Homo sapiens: one gene and its partners. The protein of the gene in region 2 interacts with the protein of the main gene of each other region in a pairwise test. Each region holds a gene or a part of one and is shown on either strand. Other genes may lie near its edges.

Evidence for each region.
Region 1: the proteins of WFS1 (region 2) and LNX2 interact in binary tests that used the Homo sapiens proteins (3 or more experiments, as listed by UniProt).
Region 3: the proteins of WFS1 (region 2) and TCF25 interact in binary tests that used the Homo sapiens proteins (3 or more experiments, as listed by UniProt).
Region 4: the proteins of WFS1 (region 2) and LCA5L interact in binary tests that used the Homo sapiens proteins (3 or more experiments, as listed by UniProt).

The regions. Positions count from the first base shown.
Region 1 is NC_000013.11:27,547,492-27,554,531, forward strand, and holds part of LNX2 (ligand of Numb protein X 2), read right to left. Parts: intron 5,949-7,040; coding exon 5,717-5,948; intron 3,001-5,716; coding exon 2,842-3,000; intron 980-2,841; coding exon 844-979; 3' UTR 1-843.
Region 2 is NC_000004.12:6,286,810-6,293,849, forward strand, and holds part of WFS1 (wolframin), read left to right. Parts: intron 1-283; coding exon 284-366; intron 367-2,177; coding exon 2,178-2,322; intron 2,323-4,387; coding exon 4,388-4,558; intron 4,559-5,107; coding exon 5,108-5,188; intron 5,189-7,040. UniProt on the Homo sapiens protein: Participates in the regulation of cellular Ca(2+) homeostasis, at least partly, by modulating the filling state of the endoplasmic reticulum Ca(2+) store.
Region 3 is NC_000016.10:89,876,559-89,883,598, forward strand, and holds part of TCF25 (ribosome quality control complex subunit TCF25), read left to right. Parts: intron 1-6,792; coding exon 6,793-6,954; intron 6,955-7,040. UniProt on the Homo sapiens protein: Component of the ribosome quality control complex (RQC), a ribosome-associated complex that mediates ubiquitination and extraction of incompletely synthesized nascent chains for proteasomal degradation.
Region 4 is NC_000021.9:39,405,219-39,407,809, forward strand, and holds the end of LCA5L (lebercilin-like protein), read right to left. Parts: exon of another isoform or gene 2,575-2,591; intron 1,514-2,574; exon of another isoform or gene 1,395-1,513; coding exon 664-1,394; 3' UTR 510-663; downstream 1-509.

The DNA of each region.
Region 1 (7,040 bases), on a different chromosome or scaffold from region 2:
AGATTACAGTAGAAATAAACCAGAAAATCAGTTTATAAACAGTATGAAGTTTTGAAATGTTGGCACCAATAAAAAATGGGAACGGCCGGGTGCGGCAGCTCACACCTGTAATCCCAGCACTTTGGGAGGCTGAGGCGGGCAGATCACAAGGTCAGGAGATCGAGACCATCCTGGCTAACACGGTGAAACCCCGTCTCTACTAAAAGTACAAAAAATTAGCTGGGCATGGTGGCACACGCCTGTAGTCCCAGCTACTCGGGAGGCTGAGGTGGGAGAATGGCGTGAACCCAGGAGGCGGAGCTTGCAGTGAGCTGAGATTGTGCCACTGCACTCCAGCCTGGGTGAGAGTGAGACTGTGGTTCAAAAAAAAATGGGGAACAGTTATCACCAAAATTTAAAGTATATTCATTCATGGTATTGGTTATGACAGTGGCAGTACACGCTGTTGTTACTGGCTTTGCTGACATCAGGCCTGAGGGATACAGAACTCGTTCTATGATTCAGTTACTGAAAACAAAGACCCACCAGAAGGTCTTTACTCCATCTGGGGCACAGTTTGGGTGAGCTTTGCTCATTACCATAGGTAACATTTTAACAACTAAGTCTGAATTCTGAAAATATAAACTCACAAAGGTTAGTGGAAGACTGTTTCCAAGCTAAAAGAAATGTAACTAACTTAGGAAACCATTTAAATAAACATAAACGGACAATCTTAGTGGGTTTTGGCCCTGTGTATACCAGCAGTGTCAGCAGCTCCTAAACCACAAACACAATGAAACCAAAGGGTTTTCTTTCAAAAATCTAAAAAAGGAAGATGCAAGATTTGAAACCAATTTCCAAAATCTATACAAGGCTGCCAGGCCAACAAATAACGGTCAGAGTGACTTTGTTCCTCTGCTCCTTCAACATGGGAACTAGTGCAGAGTGGCTCATGCCCACGGTTGACAGCCCATTTACGGCCACAATCATGTCACCACACCTGGACAAAGAGAGACAGATACAGAATGTTACTATTTTCATGGTATTAAAAATATCCCAATTGAGATTTATGTAGCATGAAAAATGCGGTTTCACTTACCACTGAACTGTCAATGGTTAGGGTGTATAATCTACTTTGTCTGGGACAGCCCTTAAGCCTATGCTGGCTTTCCCTTGCCAATCAAGGAAACCCCTGTGCCGATGACTCCATAACCAGTAGGTGAATGTCAAGGACAAGCAGAGTAATTTTCACACTAATTTAAGCAAAATATAGAGTAAATATGCTCTCTCTTTAAAAAAATACCAAGTCATGCATTTGAAGGGGGTTATTATTTTGACTGCTATTTTTCTATTCATTCTTAGAGCTCATACATCTGAGGGCTGAATTAAATTGGAAATAAGACCCATACTTCCTCTTCTTTCAGCTGTTGACGCTCACTGTACTCTAAGCAGAATTATTATGGATGGATGATGAATTGGAGGACCTTTCCAGCCTTATAATTACCATAATTATCCTTATGGTTTTTGGTCTTCTATTTATACCATAAATATACTATTTTATTGTTAACTACCTCAATTTCTTTTTGGAAGTAGGAGGAATACAAATTATAATTAACAGAGGCCCAGACTGGTTAAGTAACTTAGCTAAGAGAGTGATTAATTCATTTTTCCCTACTCTGTCCTCCTAAAATGATTTTTTTTCATCTTTATCAATATAGGCTGACCTGGAGCATACCACTCCCAATCACCTTTCCATACATTATTTAGATGTCACTTACTCCTTGCAAACAGTGTACATTCTCCATCTGCATAGCATTCTATATAGAATGTCAACATTTACTTTTTAAGAACTGGTTCTTCCTTCGTAAACCAGGTATTAAGAATTTACAATCAACCACCTCCTCTCTGCTGGTGATGATGTCTTGCCATGACACCTTCTCTTTTCTTCTCCCAGTGCCCGGGCTTTGATAAGACGCTGTACACTGAGCGAGGACTTTTGCTCAGTGGTAGAGGCTGGCAGAGGGGTTAAAGTCCAGGGATCTAGAGCCAGATAGTCCTGGGTTTGAATGCCAGCCAACCACTTTCAGCTATTTCATTGTGGGCAAGTTTCTTAACCTTTCCAAGCCTCAGTTATCTTGTTTGTTTTAAAACAGGGATAATAAAGAAACTTACCTCATAGGATTGTTAAAAAGATTACATAATGCATGCACAGCACTTAGCACCGCGCCAGGCATCCTGTAAGCTATTGTACATTCATTCATCAAATATTTATGGAGATCTTACTTTATGCAAGGTATTGTTATGACTGCTAGGGATATAACAATAAATGCAACAAGATCCCTCCCTTATGGAGCTTGCATAAATACGATCTCAGGTAGAGATGAGTGCTATGGAGAAAAATGAAGCAGAGTCATCTAATGACAGGACTGGACCTGAGTAGGCTGTGTGGGAAACTTACTCAGCGCTCAATGTCACATCACAACGTGATGAATGAAATATGTCCAATGAAATAACTCAGGTTCAGTTTCTGTCATCAGATTAATGAAACATAGCTATAAGTGACAAGACAGTAAAGGTAACATTTCAGTCTAGATCGGGATTGGCAAATTTTTTCCGTAAGGGGTCAGATGGTAAATATTTTAGGCTTCAAGACCCATACAGTCTCTGTCATGATGACATCAACTCCGCTGGTGTAGTGTGGGAGCCAGAGAGTACATAAACCAGTAAGTGTAGCTGCACTGCAATGAAACTTTATTTTCAAAAAGATAATGGGCTGGATTTAGTGCTGACCCCTGACCCCTGGTCTAGATCATGTCCAATGTCATCAACATGAATCACATCATTAATTAGAACAAGACTCACTTTAATCTTCCATCATAATAAGCAGGAGTTCCCAAGACAATAGTTTTAATGAAAAAAGGCTGATTGGTGTGGTTCTCTTCATATCCACCAACGATACTAAAGCCCCAACTTCCCAAGTAACTTCTTCGTAAAACTATATCGTGGCAGCTATGAAGTGTGCTATAAACAAACAGAAAAATAAAGAAAAAATTAACATGGAGGCTTTTATAGCCGCTTATTTTTGTTATAACCCCATACCATGTTATATTTACCACTCTTGGAAAAAAGAAAAAGGGCTATTAATAAATAGATTATTTTGACAATCCATCTTCTAGCAGAGACACAGTCCTAGGTAGACTCAAATTTCTCCAACTTTTTTCAGTCTTCCCAAGTGAAGACACACACACACACATACACACACACACACAAGTAGAGAACCTGGTTACAAATTACACCTCAGTAACCTGTACAAAAAGGTCATGTACCTATATCAGCTCACTGCATTGTCAACAAAGTCCTCAATTCTACTAATCACTTTTATCTACAAGAGGAATTACAATGTGGGATGAAAGAGGTCTAGTACTGCCAAGCCCAGCATGCAAATGAAAGAAGAAAAAGATTAGGAACGCAGCTTCCGAAAAGAAGGCAGATAATTATCTCTCTTTTCTAAAGGTCCTATAGGCTTTTAGTCTACATGAGGAGTTATTTGTTATTTTCTCCTTTACTTAGGATGTTTTCATTTTAAGGGAGACTCTAATTGCCAAAATAGAGAAATCAATCTGAAAAACACTAACAAAAAATCTTTTTCTTTTTTTTTCTATCATAGACAAGCTGGGTACAGCGTCATGTGTCTGTAGTCCCAGTTACTGGGAGGCTGAGACAGGAGGATGGCTTGTGCCCAGGAGCTTGAGGCTGCAGTGAGCTATGATCATGCCAACTTGGGTGACAGAGCAAGACCCCATCTTTAAAAAAAAAGAAAATATATACACATCTATACACACACATGCATATATAAATGTATCATAGACACTGAGAAACTACAGTTAGAATGCTACTGCCAGATTGCAGGATGTGTCCAGAGAGGGAGAAAAAAAAAATGTACTTATGTTTCCATAGCTCTATGGATTTGGGAACAAGCAGTGAGTAAAATCTTAAAAACAAAACAAACAAAAAAAGCACACCTAAATGATAAGGAAAAAAAAACTCTTCATAATAAATAAATATCTTTCATCTTTAGGTGAAACTGGATCTAAATGCACGGAAGGCAAGGTTTCCTGTTTTAAATCCATAATAAAATAATAAATATACATAATATAAATAATTAATTTTAAAAATCCTGTTTTATTATTTCTTAATAAAGCCAATTCTATAAAGCAATGTTTACCATGCCAGAACTTCTCATCTTATCTAGTTTCCTAGCTCACTGATAAGAAAGGCTTCTGGGATGGAACAAGGTCCCATGCACTGGCCTGGATTTAAAGGGACAGTGTTGGTTATTTTCCTAATGCTGCATCTTCTGAAACAAACAGCTTTCTTGTATACCCCAGCAAATCGCAGTGGAAGAATCTCCCTTTTCACGAAAAGCAGAGCAGAGCTGCTACACTATGCCGTGTGAAACCTGCATATAGGGGCCACCTGCACCCACTGAGGAGGACACATGGCTGTTGAATATAGCTTTGCATTCAACAGAGACCTCCATACACACATTGAATAGTAGCCTTTTATCGACAGGTATTCTTTCAACACAGGTGGGCTCAAAAACAGATTTTACTATACTGTGTATTTCTCATCTAAAATCTTTGCTATTATGCCTGGCACACCAGAAAATGCTCTGAAAAAAAGAGGTCAATGTGCCAACCTCCAAACTAGACTGGTATATCAGATAAGGAAAATTAAAGGAAGCACTAGGGACCAAGTTTCTCCAGGACGCTGCTGCTCTCTGCCTGCCCCATCATTAGAGGTGCAGACAAGCTCTGAGGTCTGCAACGTGCTGCCCAGCCACTGCACGAGTAGACCACTTCTCACCCACTATGCGCAAAGCGCCTTGAAGCACTATATAAATGCTAGTTGTTGTTATAAATGTATCCCACGAGTCAGGTGGCTCAGAAAATAGCAAATTCTTATTGTTTTATTTTAAAGAATCAATAATTTTCATACTTGGTCAAAAGTCAAAATGCTTCATAGCTTAGTTTTAGGATTCTTAGGTACGGTAAGAATCTAAACGGATTAGACAACAAATGATGATAGGAACACATTCTTCCTATCTCAAATGTCAAACAACAACCGCGGAAAGGAATGTACCCTGGGATGCCACTGGAGGTTCCATGTGCTTCTGTGACCCCGACACTGACCAACCACAGCATATCTTGGCTGGTCACATTTATAAAAAATAAAAGTGAAGCAGCCATTCTTGAACACTAATGGTTTGGCTTAATAGACTCTTGTATCCAATAAAAATTGAGTTTTAAATGCCACCCTTTTTAGCGAGAGTTAAAATAAATTTAAAAAGGTGTTAAGAAAGGCTTCTGGGATGGGGGGAAGCCCCAAGATTGGCCTGGGTTTTCTGATGAAAAATGCATGAAGTCTCAGCACATAGCGGAATGAGTGCTGGTAAACGACAACTTTTCTAAGCAAGAGGCTGGGTTATCCAATCTCATGGCTAGCCCACTGAGGAGCCTTGACAGGAATGGACACAACTGCTTTCTTTGTGTACCTTTTAAAGTGTAATATCCTAAGAAAAATTATCCTTTTCTTTTGTAATTTGATTTGATGTTGCTATTTTACTGAATTAAAGCTTTTTTTTTTATCCCAACGAGTAAATTTATCATGCTACACACTGATAAGGGCTGCAAGCATGATTATGATTTCCATAAAGCAACAAGAAAGCGCTCAGTACCTGGGAAGCCCAAGCCACATGACCCATGATGGGGACCAACTGGCATCATACTCATTTTCGCTGAAAGTACTCGGCTGCTCCTCCGCGTTCTGAGTCGCCTCCTCAACAATCTGGACCTCAAGTGCTTTAAGGGCAACAGCAGGGGACGCGGCACTGGCTTTCAGCATTGCAACTGCCTCACTGTGACTTAAATTGGTCAAATCAATGCCGTTGATATTTAGCAACACATCACCTGTTCAGATGAAGAAACAAGAAAAATGAGCTGAGCCACTGAGTTTTCACCTGCAAATCTTGTTGTTTATAAACTAAGCAACAAAAGTTAGTTCCCCCAACTCTGATGAGATAAGGTATAATAATAAATGGCATTTATTATTTCTTTGTAATTTTTATAATATTGAGAAGAAACCCAATACACAGAAAACATTCCATAATTTTAAAATAATGTCATAATACATAGAAAAAAGTGTGGCCTGAGGCACCTTGACATGATTGGAAGTTCGAATCATCAGTCTGAGTTTAGCTGTGTACAGGCCCTGGGCAGGTTCATTTCTCTTCTTAAGAGTTTCAGAGATTTCTACAATTCTGTCCAATCAAAAATCACTTGATCCTTTGCCCTTAGAAATAAATCTTTAATGTATTCTGCTTTATATTTACACAGTTCTATACATAAGGACAGCCCTGTATAGTTTATTCAGGGCAAACATCAGAATATGTACAAAGAAGCTATCCCTGGGCCCACATGAAGAAATGAAACTTGCGGTTTGAATGTCTTCCCTGTTTCAGGAAGAAAAGAACTGTTGCTCTGCTAAGTAATATAATAAAAAATGGCAATGAGGATTATATCAAAGGTTAGGAAAGGATTAGTTTTGTAGGAAGCAGACATTTGTGCTACAAAGTCTACAGAAATTTATCTCTCCCAATTTATCATCAGTTTTTCAGATTATTAAAGCAAATCATTCTCATTGTAGAAAATTTAGAAAACACAATAAAAGAACAAAAAGGAAATAAAATTACCCCAATACTACAACTGGACAAATAACCTTTACTTAATAGCAGCTTGAGAAATAATTCACATACTATTCAATTCACCCATTTAAAGAACATAATTTTATGGTTTTAATATATTCACAGTTGTGCAATCATCACTACAGTAATTTTGAGAACATTTTAATCACTCCCTCTATACCCATCATTTCCCTTCCCCAACCCTAAGCAACTACTAATCTACTTTCTGTCTCTACAGATTTGCCTCTTCTGAACATTTCATGTAAATGGAATCATACATGGTCTTTTATATCTAGCTTCTTTTACTTGCATAATATTT
Region 2 (7,040 bases):
TCCTTCCCATGCCTCCCACCCCGAGCGCTTTGAGTTGCTGTTGAACCACCTCACCCGCATAGAGTTTGCTCATCTTGCTCTGGCGCTGCTTGTGACCGGAAGGCAAACAGTGGCTTTCTGGGCATCTTCCCTGTCTGTGTCTGTGTCTCTCTGTACTCCTGGCCTGGATTTGAAAGTGACAAGCAGCAGCAGATCTGAAGACCCTCATGCCTTGTCCCCTCCATCCTGACAAGTGACAAAGTCTGGCTTTGTGACATGTGTGTTTGTTTCTTCTGTGTTAAAGGGCCTACAAAGGGAGACATGGAAATCCCCTTTGAAGAAGTCCTGGAGAGGGCCAAGGCCGGGGACCCCAAGGCACAGACTGAGGTGAGGACTGCGGTGCCGGCAGGGACTTCGGGACGCGGCCCCCGGCACAACAGGCCTGGCCACGAGCTCCACAGCCCACAGAGAAGTGTCGGTGCCTGAGATCGGGGTCAGGAGCCAGCGTGGTGCACCCTACCCCACTTGAGCCCCATGTTGGTAGGGTGCCCATGTTCACTGTGCCAGTTTTCCTCCTGGCACTCCTCTGGGGAGCAGCGCTCATCCCCCTTTTGTCCAACTCACACCTCATCTTGGGCATCACCTCCTCCAGGATGACCTCCTGGCTTCCTGCAGCTGCCTGCTCAGTGCCACCCCTCAACATACACTGTGTATGCTGCCCACTCTTGTCTCCCTGACTGGCCTTTCACCTGGCTGTTAGCTGTGTGCACGGGGCCCTCAGAGCGGTGACCATTCACTTGGGCATCAGCCAAGGGCTGGGCTTTGTGCCAGTGCTGGGGACATGATGTGGCCCTCTCTTCATGGGTGACAGGTTAGTGGAAGAAGCAGACCCAAAAAACCCAAGTAGACAAGACACAGAAATACAGTGATTTTGAATTCTGGTGAGGGGAGAAGCCAGCAGAACGCTGAGACGGGAGGTGGCAGGGGGTCCTGTGTCCTCTGTGGAGGCAAGTTCTCACCACCTCACTCTGTCCCCTTGCACAGGGCTCAAGCAAGTGACCACAGTTATCCTGAGCAGTTTCCTGCCCCCTCTTCTCCCTAAAGAGGAGAAAAGCTTCCACGCGAAACCATAAATTAAGAATTTCTGGCTGGGAGCGGTGGCTCACGCCTGTAATCCCAGCACTTTGGGAGGCTGAGGCGGGTGGATCACCTGAGGTCAGGAGTTCGTGACCAGCCTGGCCAACATGATGAAACCGTGTCTCCACTACAAATAGAAAAATTAGCCAGACATGGTGGTGCATGCCTGTAATCCCAGCTACTTGGGAGGCTGAGACAGGAAAATCACTTGAACCCAGGAAGTGGAGGTTGCAGTGAGCCGAGATCGCACCACCACGCTCCCAACTGAGCAACAGAGCAAGACTCTGTCTCAAAAAAAAAAAAAAAAAAATTTCTTTCCTGACCTCACAGCCATATTGTACTTTAAAGTTCCTCCCACATCCTTTTGCCCAGGCATTTGGAGGCGGGGGGAGCATAGTAAGCCCTTTTATGGGCTCTCTGTGCCCTGGGCCTCACTTTTTCCATCTGTAGAATGAGAAGACTGGACCATTTCAGCAGGGATTCTTTTTGCAAAGGGCCAGATAGTGAATATTCTGGACTCTGCGCAATCTCTGCCGTGTTGCTCAGCTTTGCTGTGGAGCACGTAAAAGCAGCATGGACAACATGTAAATGAATGGTTATGGTTGTATTTCAATAAAACTTTATTTGCAAAAACAGGCAGTGGGCCAGTGCTAACCCTTGGTTAGCTGGCGTCTCTCCAGCCCTGGCTTTCTATGGTCCCCTGACTGTTTTGAGAGGTGTAAAGGACCCAGTCATGGTTCTGATTTCCATGCATTGATGGTGAGCCTTGGCAGGCAGGAGCAACTCAAGGAAGAGAACCTGTACCAGTACCAGTCGGAGCCCGTGTCTCCCTCGCCGTGTGGATGGGGTGGCCACACCTTCCTCACCGTGTTTTGAGGAGCGAGTGGCCGGAGGCTCAGTAGGGCCTAGCCTAGTGGACATGCCTGGTGTGACCCCATTTCTGCCCCTTCCTTCCTGGCCTGGGTGACAAAGGGAAGTGGGTGAAAGGAGGTGGGCTGGCAGGGAGCATGGGGTGGGAGAGGGTCGGAGAATCTGGAGGCTGACTGGTGTCTGGCTTGCAGGTGGGGAAGCACTACCTGCAGTTGGCCGGCGACACGGATGAAGAACTCAACAGCTGCACCGCTGTGGACTGGCTGGTCCTCGCCGCGAAGCAGGGCCGTCGCGAGGCTGTGAAGCTGCTTCGCCGGTGCTTGGCGGACAGAAGAGGTGGGTCTGTGTGAGGCTTAGAACAGCCTCTGGAGGGTTGAGCAGCTTGTAATGCTGCTTGCTAACTGAACAACTAAAATCTTACCAAACCTAACGCTGGTGATGCTGTTGGGAAATTTCAGTTTCTGTTTTGCTGGTGGCCTTCTCATTTTAGACACTGTTTCTGGACTTAACATGGGATATTTAACAGACCAAGCCATTTTCATTCTCTTTGGCTTGTGTTGGTATCTCCAAGTGGTAACTATACATCCTGCTTCCCTGCTGGGTTCTGATCCAAACTGAGACATCGATCCTGGGTTCAGCTGAGAGGCAGTTTCCCTGAGGCAAAGCTGGAGACTGTAATGTGGCCTGCAGTCAGAGTGGCCCATGCCCCTGAGCTGATGTCCGTCGAGTCTGGGCAGACCAGCTGAGGGGCTGTGGGCCCACACAGACCTGGACAAGCATGTTCACTTTGGGAGGAGGCAGGCTGACCCTTCATAGATAATCTCTTTCAAACAGAGAGGCAGGGGAGGAAAGGGACGCAGCTCAGGCCAGGGGTGGTGAGTTAGGACGTTGTCCTGCGCAAGGGAAGTGGCTGTCCCTGGTGCCGTGGGGCAGTGTGCTTCCTGAAGGTTCCACGCCTCAGGGAAAGATGAAAGTGGGTGTCACAAAGGTGTTTTTTCTAATGATACCTTTTTTTTCAGATTGTAAGAGTATTTTATGCTTATCATAGAAAACTTGGACTATGTAGAAAACATAAAGATACAAATTACTCATAACCTTGAAGCCCAGAAGCAACTCCCCATATTTTGGTGTATTTCCTTCTGTGTTTGTTGTTGTTGTTTTGAGATGGAGTCTCACTCTGTCGCCCAGGCTAGAGTGCAGGGGTGCGATCTCAAGTCACTGTAACCTCCACCTCCCTGGTTCAAGCAATTCTCCTGCCTCAGCCTTTTGAGTAGCTGAGATTACAGGCGTGCATTACCACACCTAGCTAATTTTTGTATTTTTAGCAGAGACAGGGTTTCATCAGGTTGGCCAGGCTGGTCACAAACTCCTGACCTCAGGGGATCCACCCTCCTTGGCCTCCCAAAGTGATGAGAGTACAGGCGTGAGCCACCATGCCCAGCTTGTATCATATTTTAAGAGTTACATTTATTATACAGAGTCTTCTCTTTGAAAATTAAACTGATGATTTTGAAAAACTAACAGTGGCATTGTTAGCCAGAATTTCTCACCAACCCAGCCTGCTGATTCCAGAGCAGTTGGAATGACCTGGAGGGGGCTCAGGCGGCCCACACGGCTCATTGTTGGGTGCCAGGGATAGCCCAGAGGCTGCTGGGGCAGAGCGTGCAAGGGAGGAGGCCGGTTGGCCCCGTGTTCCCCCAGCTGCACACACCTTCTGATGTGCAGTTGTGCTTTCTGATTTGAAAAGAAATACATGCTCATGTGGAAAATTTTGGAAATGTTCAAAAGGAGAAAAACATCCAGACCCCCGTGCCAGTCCTCCTGCCCTCTGCTTGGTTGTGCCAGTGTCCCAGGCCGTTGGGGGTAAAGGGAGGAAGGCAGCTGCTGACCAGCGGTAAAACCTGCTCTCCCTCTCCCCGCTGTCCAAGCCTTCCTTAGAAAGGGCTGGGCTGTGTGTGAGACAGAGGAAAGCTCTGTAGACACAGGGGTGGCCCTGCCAGTGCACCCAGGCTGGTGACTGCAGTGAGTCCACCCTGGGTTCAAGACAGCTCTGCCTCTTTCTGACTGTGTGACCTTGAGTGAGCCAGAACACAGGCCTGTGCCTCCGGGTCTGCACCTCTGAGAGAGGGGAGGAACAGGAAGAGGCTGCCTTCTTCCCGCCAGCATGTAGGGGGCACTTGGGGGCGTCTGGTGGGAGACCAGTCTGGCCTCCCAGCTGGAGAGTGGGCGTGGCGCGATGTCCTCTTGAGTCAGATGTCCATGCATCCTTCCCTGGTAACCAAGTCCTGACACCTTCTATGAGTCTCGCTCGAAAGCCTTCCAGGCAGAGTTGGCAGGGTCAGAGTGGCACCGAAAGCCTAGGCAGGGCACACAAGGCCTTTGACCACATCCTATCCCTCAGGCATCACGTCCGAGAACGAACGGGAGGTGAGGCAGCTCTCCTCCGAGACCGACCTGGAGAGGGCCGTGCGCAAGGCAGCCCTGGTCATGTACTGGAAGCTCAACCCCAAGAAGAAGAAGCAGGTGGCCGTGGCGGAGCTGCTGGAGAATGTCGGCCAGGTCAACGAGCACGGTGCGAGGATTCACCCTGGGCACCAGCCTTCCCTGGGCGCCAGCCTTCCCACAGGAGCCAGGACCTTCCCATAGGGGCTGGGACCTTCCCTCAGGGGCTGGGTCTTCCCACAGGAGCCGGGACCTTCCCTGTGAGGACAGGGCCCTTCCTTGTGGGGACCAGGGGACCAGAACCTTCCTGTAGAGACCGTGCCCTAGTGGTGAGGTGTGTGGGTGGCATTTTGACAGCATCTGCCCTGGCTCAAGTGCTCACTCATTGAATAAACCAGAGGGTATTCTGCCCAGTGCTCTGTGACCACGTCTACCAATGGGACGGACTGTGTCCATCACCAAGTGGGAGCACGCTACGTGGTGCTGAGTCCACCCCAGCTACTGGAGGTACAGAGGTGTGGCCCCTGCTCTGCCTGCCCTGGGGGCCCTATGATCCCCAGAACGTAGGATGCCCCTGGAACTGGCGTGCCCTAGGAACAGTGCGCCAGTTTCTGGTGGGCTGCAGGGCACGAGGAGATAGTCAACTTGTCTGACTGTTAATCCACCCTGTCCCCTGCAGATGGAGGGGCGCAGCCAGGCCCCGTGCCCAAGTCCCTGCAGAAGCAGAGGCGCATGCTGGAGCGCCTGGTCAGCAGCGAGTGTGAGTGCAGCCCCTGCCCCGTCTCACCCATGCCTCCCAGCCTGCACCTGCAGGGCGACCTCTCCTTCCTGTGCGACTCCATCCTGGCCTGCCCTATCTCACCCGTGCCTCCCAGCCTGCGCCTGCAGGGCGACCTCTCCTTCCTGTGCGACCCCATCCTGGCCCTGCTAGGATCTCAGGCGGTCCGTTTGGGGCTCAGTGTTCTGGACGCTGGGAGTAGACCCTGCCCACCTGGAGCGCACGCACTGGAGGGAAGGCAGACCCAGGACAGAAACCATGATGTGCCAGTCCCTCTTGGACAAGGAAATACTGGGGGTGGGGACTGGCGGGGGGGTCCTGAGTGGGGAAGGATGAGGAGGGCATTAGGGGAAGGGGCTCCGGGCAGAGGGAACAGCATGAGCAAAGGCCCAGGAGACCCAGCAGGGTGTGGAAGGGGCTCTGCCCCAGCGTAGGCCCTTTGTAGGTAGGCAGGGAACAGAGTGGGCAGAGCCTAGGTTGGGGGATAGAGTCTCTGGGGCACACTGAGCTGGGGGTGCCTCTGGGATGTTTGTGGTCAAAGACTGAGAAGAGACGTCACATCCTCCACGTGCAGCTGGCCAGCCTCACTGTCTTCCATCCACGTGGGGTAGACTCTGCAGTCTGAGGCACTGGGAGCTCCTGTCCTGGAGAAGATAGACAGGCAGGAGGCTTGGGGGCTCAGTATCAATGGGGGGATGGGCCAAGACCCAGGTCTGCCACAGACTCTTCTTGTGACATGGGCAGGTCTCATTTTTCTTTCTGGGTGTCAGTTTCCCCTTCTGAACAGTGAGATGATCAGACAAGGGGACTGAAGGACCTCGCCCATCCTAGAAGCCTCTGTGGCATGTAGGGCAGAGTACAGGTGGGAGCACAGATCCCACCTTCCCACTGGGCCCGTGAGGAAACCGTCCATAGGGTGTGGTCAGAGCCCTCGCCTCTGCGTGGGCGGACATGGGTGCTTGCGCTGCTGTTTTCCTGCTCCATTTGGGGGAGACAAAGAAACACCTCACATGGAAGTGGGAAGAAATCTGTGACTCTAGGAAGCCCGAGGACCAGAGAGGCTGTGACAGTGTCCTGCCACCGAGGTGGCATGGTGCCTGCTGTCCTGAAGTGAGGTGCCTCTGGGCAGGAGCAGCCCAGCCTGGGTCTCCATCCTGGGGGGCACTGCAGGCAGAGTCTGGACCCCAACCTCACTTCCCAGTCCCACAGGGGTTTGTGATGAGCCGGGCACACCTGCTGCTGGGCCCTGTCGCTGTTGCTGGGGGCGAGTTAGGAGTCAGCGCTGCCAGCCTGTGGTCCCCTCCGCCAGGCCCTCAGGGACAGGGCCCCAGCACCCCCATTGTTTCCCCTCTATCAGAACGTTCCCATCAGGCATCATCTGTTTCTCTGCCAGCTTTTCCAACAGAACTCCCAGAAAGGGGCGTCTGTCATCCCCTTCTCTCGTCCTCCGTCCTTTGCTCTCAGGCCTCTGCCATGTTATTCCACCAAAGCGGCTCGTCTAGGCCATCAGTGACCCCCCTTGCTCAGTCACTTCTTGTCCTTGTCTGACTTGATCTGTCAGCAGCGTGGGCAGAGATGACTGCTCTTCTCCTTAGAGCCCTCTCCCCCACCAGGCCCGGGGCCCTTGCTGCCACACTGGCTGCTCCTTCTTGGGGTCCCTAGACTGATGTCCTGTCTCTCAGGACAGGACATCCTGCCCAAGGTATTCATCCCTATGAGGACAGGGGCCTTCCTTGTGGGGACCAGGGTCTTCCCGTAGGGACTGTGCTCTGGTAGGGAGATGTGTGGGTGGCATTGGTGACCACTCTCGTGTGTCAGACGCCGTCCTGAACCC
Region 3 (7,040 bases), on a different chromosome or scaffold from region 2:
GGTGGGCAGATCACCTGAGGTCAGGAGTTCGAGAGCAGCCTGGCCAACATGGTGAAACCCCATCTCTACTAAGAATACAAAAATTGGGCCAGGCGTGGTGGCACATGCCTGTATTCCCAGCACTTTGGGAGGCCGACGTGGGCGGATCATGAGGTCAGGAGATCCAGACCATCCTGGCTAACACGGTGAAACCCCGCCTCTACTAAAGAAGTACAAAAAAATTAGCCGGGTGTGGCGGCGGGAGCCTATAGTCCCAGCTACTCAGGAGGCTGAGGCAGGAGAATGGCGTGAACCCAGGAGGCGGAGCTTGCAGTGAGCTGAGATCGTGCCACTGCACTCCAGCCTGGGCAACAGAGCGAGACTCCATCTAAAAAAAAAAAAAAAAAAAAAAAAATTGGCCAGGCATGGTGGTGGGTGCCTGTAATCCCAGCTACTTGGGAGGCTGAGGCAGGAGAATTGCTTGAACCCAGGAGGTGGAGGTTGCAATGAACTGAGATTGTGCCACCAGGCTCCAGCCCGGGCAATACAGCGAGACTCTGTCTCAAAAAAATAAATAAATAAATAAATAAATAAATCGTAATAATAATTATGGATTTGTCTATTTCTACTTTCAACCCTGTCAGTTTTTGCTGTGTGTGGGTGTGTGTGTGTTTTGGTTTTTTGGAGACAGAGTCTCGCTCTATTGCCCAGGCTGGAGTTCAATGTCACAATTATAACTCACTGTAATCTTGAACTCCTGGGCTCAAACCATCCTCCCACCTCAGCCTCCCAAGTAGGTGGAACTATAAGTGGGTGTCACCACACCTGGCTAATTTTTTCAATTTTTTTTGAAAGCCAGTGTGCTGGGATTATAGATGTGAGCTACCATGCCTGGCCTAGAATCTTTTCTGAACTGATTGGTAATGAAAATAGCAACCTATCAAAATTTGTGGGATGCAACTGAAACGATGATTAGAACTTTATCATCGTAAATTTTAAATTAGAAAAGTGTTTAAAAATCTAGAAATTTACCTGAAACTTCTACCTTAAACTAGAAAAAGAGCAAATTAAACTCAAAATGTGTCGAAGGAAGAAACTAATCAAAGAGGGGAATGCACAGAATAGAGTATGGACACGATGGAGAGAATCGGTGAGACCGAAACTTGGTTCTCTCAAAAGACGAGTTGGCAAAAACTCTAGATTGACTGATGGAGGGAAAAAGGGAAGGTCCAGGTACGTTACCATTTTCAGGGATGGGAGAGGAGTGTTCACAGGTACAGATGGTGCAGATAGTAACGGGCGATAAGGAACTTCTTGCTAATAAATTTTCCAGATTAGACAAATGGGCAAGTTCCTTTAAAGATAAAACTTATCTAAATTGACATGTGAAGAAATAAAAAAATCTGAGCCCTTTTATCTATTAAAGATACTGAATTTTTTAAAGTATAAAACATTCCAGGCTAGGGTTGGTGGCTGACACCTGTAATCCCATCACTTTGGGAGGTCAAGGCAGATCCATCACTTGAGCTCAGGTGTGTGAGACCAGCCTGGGCAATGTGGCAAAACCCCATCTCTACAAACAATACAAAAAAACTGTCCAAGTATAGTGGCACTCACCTGTGGTCACAGCTACTCGGGAGGCTGAGACGGGAGGATGGCTTGAACCCAGGAGGTCGAGGCTGCAGTGAGGTGAGATGACGCCACCGTACTCCAGCCTGGGTGACAAAGTGAGACCCTGTCTCAAAAAAAAAAAAAAGACAACCTCAGGCTGGGTGCGGTGGCTCATGCCGGTAATCCCAGCACTGTGGGAGGCCAAGGCGGGTGGACCACCTGAGGTCAGGAGTTCGAGACCAGCCTGGCCGACATGGTGAAACTCCGTCTCTATTAAAAATCACCATTTTTTTTTTTTTTTTTTTTTTTTAGGAAAAATGGACATTTTCCTCTCCCCCTAAAAAAAGATAAAACTCCTTCCTGGTTATTAACTGAAATGCTGATCGAGCTTTATCCTAAAGAAGATCAGTCGTGGACAAGAACCTTGTGAAATGTTCCCCATTTGAGACCCTAAAACTAATGAAAATCACAGCTTTTGGGTAGGTAATAAGGTGTTTTGTTTTGTTTTTTGAGACGGAGTCTTGCGCTGTCGCCCAGGCTGGAGTGCAGTGGCACCATCTCAGCTCACTGCAAGCTCTGCCTCCTGGATTCACTCCATTGTCCAGCCTCAGCCTCCTGAGTAGCTGGGACTACAGGCGCCCACCACCACGCCCGGCAAGTTTTTTTGTATTTTTAGTAGAGACGGGGTTTCACCGTGTTAGCGAGGATGGTCTTGATCTCCTGACCTCGCCATCTGCCCACCTCTGCCTCCCAAAGTGCTGGGATTACAGGCGTGAGCCACCGCGCCCAGCCAGTAATAAGGTTTGTCTGACGGTGATTGACAGCATTTTAGAGCTGATGCATGGCAGTAGAGATTGCAGCAAATCATGTGTCATCACCAAAACTTCACTGAAGAAGCAAAACTAGGCCTGTCACCCGTGCTGTCTGTGTACACAGATGGGCTTCAGAGCCTGTCACACGTGTTGTCCGTGTACACAGATGGGCTTCGGGGCCTGTCATACGTGCTGTTCGTGTACACAGACGGGCTCCTGGGCCTATCACCCGTGCTGTCCGTGTACACAGATGGGCTTCGGGGCCTGTCACACGTGTTGTCCGTGTGCACAGATGGGCTTCGGGGCCTGTCACACGTGTTGTCCGTGTACACAGACGGGCTTCAGAGCCTGTCACACGTGCTGTTCGTGTACACAGACGGGCTCCTGGGCCTGTCACACGTGCTGTCCGTGTACACAGATGGGCTTCGGAGCCTGTCACACGTGTTGTCCGTGTACACAGATGGGCTTCGGGGCCTGTCACACGTGTTGTCCGTGTACACAGATGGGCTTCGGGGCCTGTCACACGTGTTGTCCGTGTGCACAGATGGGCTTCGGGGCCTGTCACACGTGTTGTCCGTGTGCACAGATGGGCTTCGGGGCCTGTCACACGTGTTGTCCGTGTGCACAGATGGGCTTCGGGGCCTGTCACACGTGTTGTCCGTGTGCACAGATGGGCTTCGGGGCCTGTCACACGTGTTGTCCGTGTGCACAGATGGGCTTCGGGGCCTGTCACACGTGTTGTCCGTGTGCACAGATGGGCTTCGGGGCCTGTCACACGTGTTGTCCGTGTGCACAGATGGGCTTCGGGGCCTGTCACACGTGTTGTCCGTGTGCACAGATGGGCTTCGGGGCCTGTCACACGTGTTGTCCGTGTGCACAGATGGGCTTCGGGGCCTGTCACACGTGTTGTCCGTGTGCACAGATGGGCTTCGGAGCCTGTCACACGTGTTGTCCGTGTACACAGACAGGCTCCTGGGCCTATCATGTGTGCTGTCTTTGTAAACAGTCAGGATCCCAGGACTATCACGCGTGCTGTCCATGTACACAGGCAGGCTCCTGAGCCCATCACACGTGCTGTCCGTGTACACAGATGGGCTTCAGAGCCTGTCACACGTGTTGTCCATGTACACAGACAGGCTCCCGGGCCTATCATGTGTGCTGTCTGTGTACACAGGCAGGCTCCTGAGCCCATCACGCGTGCTGTCCGTGTACACAGGCTCCTTTCCATTGAAGTTCAGCTTGGCATAGAGCTTTTTATGAATTCGATTTGTCAAACACCTCAAAATAAGAATTTTTTTTCTTAGGAAGTCAGCATGAGTTAATAAAAGTAAATTGGGTGTTGGCCGGGCGCGGTGGCTCACGCCTGTAATCCCAGCACTTTGGGAGTCTGAGGCGGGCAGATCACCTGAGGTCAGGAGTTCGAGACCAGCCTGGCCAACATGATGAAACCCCATCTGTACTAAAAATACAAAAATTAGCCTGGCATGGCGGCACATGCCTGTAGTCCCAGTTACTCGGGAGGCTGAGGCAGGAGAATCACTTGAATCCGGGAGGCGGAGGTTGCAGTGAGCCAAGATCATGCGATTGCTCTCCAGCCTGGGCAACAGAGCAAGACTCCATCTCAAAAAAAGAAAAAAAAAAAAGTAAATTGGGTGTTGTGGCGTGTGCCTGTAGTCCCAGCTCCTGGGGAGGCTGAGGCAGGAGGATCCCTTGACCACAGGAATTTGAGGCCAGCCTGGGCAACACAGTGAGACCCTATCTCTAAAAACAGACAAGTAAACCAGCACCCAGCTTCACTAAGAGACATCATCATTAGTTGAATGTTGGAGATGGTGTAGATCCAATTTACCAGTGACCACCCACAGGTTAGAAACATTTCAACAATAGGCTTTGTTTCAGCTTTCTTCCTTTACTGCAGGGTGCAAGGCAGCCGGCCCATGCCTAGGCCCCAGCTTCGCCAGCAAAGGCCAGGCAGAAGGAGGCATCACCATGAGAATCACCATCATGGTGCTGCTGGGATGGGACAAACCTCGTTTTGGTGGAGTGTCAGTGTTTTCAAGTTAGGGGCTCTGTTTACATAACACGTCTATACTGCCATGGATTTTCTCAACGGGCGTAAGTTGCTCCTGACTTGTCTCAGCGGGCGTTTAAGATGCTCCTGAATCGTATCCTTGTCATGTGGGAGCCTCCATTGGAGAGAAAGCCGACTGACCGGCAAGCACAGACCTGCCCTGTGCTTTCTTCTCTTCAGCAACCGCAGCCGGGGTGTCTGTCTTCCCAGGTGCAGCCGAGTCTCAATTCTGTTTCAGAAACTATCTCAGGGCTATGGGGCTTGGAGCTGATTGTGTTTTCTGAGGTTTGTGGTTTTCAAGATGTTTTAAATTAAACAGGCAGTTTTATTTATTTTTGAACCTTAGTGCATCCGATTGGATCCATCAGAATCTCCTAGTTCATAAAGAATTGTTGATGCTGGTCTCTGTTAGCTTTTTTTTTAAAAAATTTAGAGCTAGAGTCTTGCTCTGTTGCCCACGCTGGAGTGCCGTTGTGTGATCATGGCTCACTCCAGGTTCCAGATTCCAGGACTGCTGGGCTCACGCAGTCCTCCTCAGCCGCCTGAGTAGCTGGGACTCAAGAGGTGTGTGCCACCACACCCTGCTAATTTTTTGTAGAGATGGGGTCTCACTGTATTGCCTAGGCTGGTTTCAAGCTCCTGGGCTCAGATGATCCTCCTGCCTCAGCCTCCCAAAGCGCTGGGATTATAGGCATGAGCCACCACACCCAATCTGTTAGCCTCTTTTTTTTTTGTTTTCTTGAAATGGAATCTCGCCTTATCACCCAGGCTGGAGTGCAGTGGCATAATCTTGGCTCGCTGCAACCTCTGCCTCCCGGATTCAAGCAATTCTCCTGCCTCGGCCTCCCGAGTAGCTGGGATTACAGGCACGCGCCACTGCACCTGGCCGATTTTTTTATTTTCAGTAGAGACGGGATTTCACCATGTTGGTCAGGCTGGTCTTGAATTGCTGACCTCGTGATCCACCCACCTCGGCCTCCCAAAGTGCTGGGATTACAGGGGTGCACCGCCACCGTGCCCGGTCAGCCTCTCACTAGCTGAGGAGCCAGAACTTTTCCTGTTCTTACCCTTCTCCCACTGCCTGTCTCCCCTCCAATCTGTATGTGAATGTATGTTGTGAGGTTTTATCCATTTAATATTATACTCCTAAGATTCATCCATATTGTGTGTTCAGTGGTGGTTCATTCATTCATTCATTCTCACTGCTATAAAAAGGTTCCAGACTTGGCGTGGTGGCTCACGCCTGTAACTCCAGCTCTTTGGGAGGCTGAGGCAGGAGGATCGCTTGAGGTCAGGAGCTCAAGACCAGCCTGGGCAATGTGTTGAGACCCCCATCTCTACAAAAAAATTTAAAAAATTAGCCAGGCATGGTAGCTCACGCCTGTAGTTCCAGCTACTTGGGAGGCTGAGGCAGGAGGATGCTTGAACCCAGGAGGCCAAGGCTGCAGTGAGCCAAGATCACACTGCTGCACTGCAGCCTGGATGACAGAGCGAGACTCTGTCTCAAAAAGAGAGAGAGAAGGTTTCATCGTATGAATTATTTTTATCGTATGTCATTTTGTTTTTCTATTTTGAGATGGAGTCTTGCTCTGTTGCCCAGGCTGGAGGGTAGTGGTGCGATCTTGACTCACAGCAACCTCTGCCTCCCGGGTTCAAACGATTATACCACTTCAGCCTCCCAAGTAGCTGGGATTACAGGCTCCTGCCACTGTGCCTGGCTAATTTTTGTGTTTTTAGTAGAGACAGGGTTTCGCCATGTTGGCCAGGCTGGTCTTGAACTCCTGACCTCAAGTGATCCGCCTGCATCAACCTCCCAAAGTGCTGGGATCACAGGCGCGAGCACCTCGCCTGGCCTATCATTTTCATTAGGAAAAGTTTGTAGGTTGATGGGTCCTTGGTGCCTTTTTTTCCTGCCTGCTGCTGGAGAGGAGCTGAGGCTTGAGGAGAAAGGAGGAAGAAGGAACTTTAATGCATTGGCTGAATATATATATTTAACGTTTTGTCCTGCAGATGGTCCTCTGTAAATGGAGTAAATTACAATATTTGAGGAGTCTTCCTTACCTCATCTCTGAAGGCAGAGATACCCCATAGCCTCGGGGCCCCGGCTTTCTGTAGAGCTGCTGACAAAGTCCCCCTGAGCCAGAGCTGAGTCACTGCTGTGTCCAACAGTCTCGGGTTCTTGCATCTTTCCCGTCCAGCGTCTCGCACTGACCCTGGGGGTCCCCAACGCAAGCCCGTTCACATCTCACTATTCATATCTCAGCATGAGCGTTCACACTGTAAGTAACGCCCTGGCTCTTCTCCAACCTGTTTTTCCAGATAAACATTGACGATCTTGAGGATGACCCTGTGGTGAACGGGGAGAGGTCTGGCTGTGCGCTCACAGACGCTGTGGCACCAGGGAACAAAGGAAGGGGTCAGCGTGGAAACACAGAGAGCAAGACGGATGGAGATGACACCGAGACAGTGCCCTCAGAGCAGGTGGGGGGCTGAGTGGTGAGGAGGTGGCATCAGACGGGAGAGTTCCAAGGCACCCAGCCACGTGTATCCTGTGCTGTGATTTTCCT
Region 4 (2,591 bases), on a different chromosome or scaffold from region 2:
CACGGTCTCACTCCGATTGCCCAAGCTAGAGTGCAGTGGCACGATCATGCTCACTGAAGCCTCGACCTGGGCACAAGTGATTCTTTGACCTCAGCCTCCCAAGTAGCTGGGACTACAGGCACACACCACCACACCTGGCTAATTCTTATAATTTTTGTAGAGACGGGGTTGTACCATGTTGGCCAGGCTGGTCTTAAACTCCTGGACTCAAGTGATCCTCCCACCTTGGCCTCCTAAAATGCTGGGATTACAGGCAAGAACCACTGCATCTGGCCTGCTTCCATGTTTTTAAGTTACAATTCAACTCTATTGCTGATAAATTTTGTTGTGTAGGAGATGCATGTCTTGGGTTGACTAACTTAAGAGTTACTAGCTATGGAGTCCCACAGAATACTAAAACCATATAGTAAACCAGTCTTCCAGAAGATAATGGATGTTTCAGTTGTAAAGATGTAAATTTGTATTTGAAGTGTTATCATTGGCTAATATAAAATAGATTTTTTACTAGATTAGCAATCAAACAAAAATTTAATTATCGAAAGTCAATTAAGTACTAAAACACACACATACATACACTCCCTCTCTCACACATTTCAAAAATAAGATGCAAGGCACATAAGCAGCATTATATCAAACCAGAATGCATTAGGATATTGATTATATTTAAATAATTATTTTTCTTTTTCCTTCTGTAGGTGACGATGGCTTAATAGAATTTACCACAGTTACTTTAGAGTCTCCGAAAGCATGGCTGGTGGAGGCCTGACTGGGAGGCAGGGGATGCGACTCCTTACTTTGCAAAGGCTCCTCTGAGCCTTTTGCAACACCAGGACTTGATTGGTCAGTTTTCAAGACATAGCCTGATCCAAAGAGTTCTTCCATGAGACTGCTTTTCTTATCTCTGAAAGTTGTATCCTTCACTTTTATTCTGGAAGACTTACCAAATGAGGGCTCATACCCACTGTCAGAATGCTCTAGCTCCATTTCCTCTCTGTTACTGAGATGCTTGCCTGTACTATGACTGTACCTCATGTTGCCGGCATTGGCTGGCCCCCCTGAAGCAGGAAGCCCATGATGCAGGTTTTCAGTTGCTTCTGTGAATGAGTAATGTCTTCTTTGTCTGAGGGGGCCTTTCGTGTAGGGAGCAGTGCCTTTGCCAAGTGTGTCATCCACACCATTTCTCTGCATGCTTCTTTTAAACTTTTCTCTTACTAGAACATCTTCTTGATTGCTTTCTCTTTCAGGATGAATAACTTCAATTATTTTTGGTGGTAGTTCTTGCTCTTCTTTCACAAAAATGTTTTTCTTTTCTTGGTCTTCTTTTTTGTCTTTTTGTCTTCCAGTATTCTCCAGCAGTATTTGGACTTCCAAATGTTTCTCTTCCCCTGATAAATCTATATTAGAAAAATAGGCAATTTAGTGCTGTTTAAAATGAATGGATCTCTATTTCAAGATGGCATGTCTAGTACACTTACGTGCACCGCCTCACAAGCACACTGAAATGACAGAAAAGGTAAGAAAATAGATGCATAGACAAAAGATTACAGAGAAAGGTGCTATTAACAAATGTGTTATGTTACAGTTTCTTGGAACTTCCCAAGCAGATGGGAATTATGAAACCAAAAGAAAAATGACATTCATAGAAGAAGAAATAAAATTTGCCAATAAGGTTATTAATAGATGTTTAACATCACTAACTGGACATACTGCCAGTTGAAACAATGATGGCTGGGTGCAGTGGCTCACACCTGTAATTCCGGCACTTTGGGAGGCTGAGGCAGGAGGACTGTTTGAGCCCAAGAGTCTGAGACCAGCCTGGGCAACATAGCGAAACCCTGTCTCTACAAAAAATACAAAAATTAGCTGGGTGTGGTGGTGTCTGCCTGTAGTCTTGGCTACTCAGGAGGCTAAGGTGGGAGGATCACTTGAGCCCAGGAGGACAAGACTGCAGTGAGCCGTGACTGTGCCACTGCATACCAGCTTGGGCAACAGAGCAGAGCTGTTTCAAAACAAAACAAAACAAAACAGAACAGAAGAACAGAACAGAACAGAACAGGACACAATGAGAACATTTTTCATCCATCCAATTGGCAAATAATTTCTAGAGCTGGTGAGAAGATGGGGAAATTGGAATGTTTGGTCCCCGCTGGTGGGTGTGTTGTTGGTACAGCATTTTTGGATGGCAATTTGGCAGTATCAAGATTTTAGGTGAATATACTCTTAGACCTAACAACTTCTTCTTAGAACGAACCTACAAAAAATAGACAAGGATAAGTGCAACGATGTTCACTGTGGCGTGGGTTAGTAACAATAAAACCTCCTAAACATCTGCCAAAGGAATAATGGTTAAATAAGGTATGGCACGTGCAGTCTGTGGAATTCCAGGCAGTTATTATAGACAATGAGCTGGATCCATGTGAACTGATGGGGAAGGATGTTCCCACTACAGAATATAAGCACATGAGGGCAGGGTTTTGCATTTGCTTCCTCCTGTCTCCCTAATGCCTAGAACAGTGTCAGACACATAGTGCATGCTCAGAAAGTATTTGTCAAATGAATGGATACACTTTCTAGGACACTATGAATTAGGA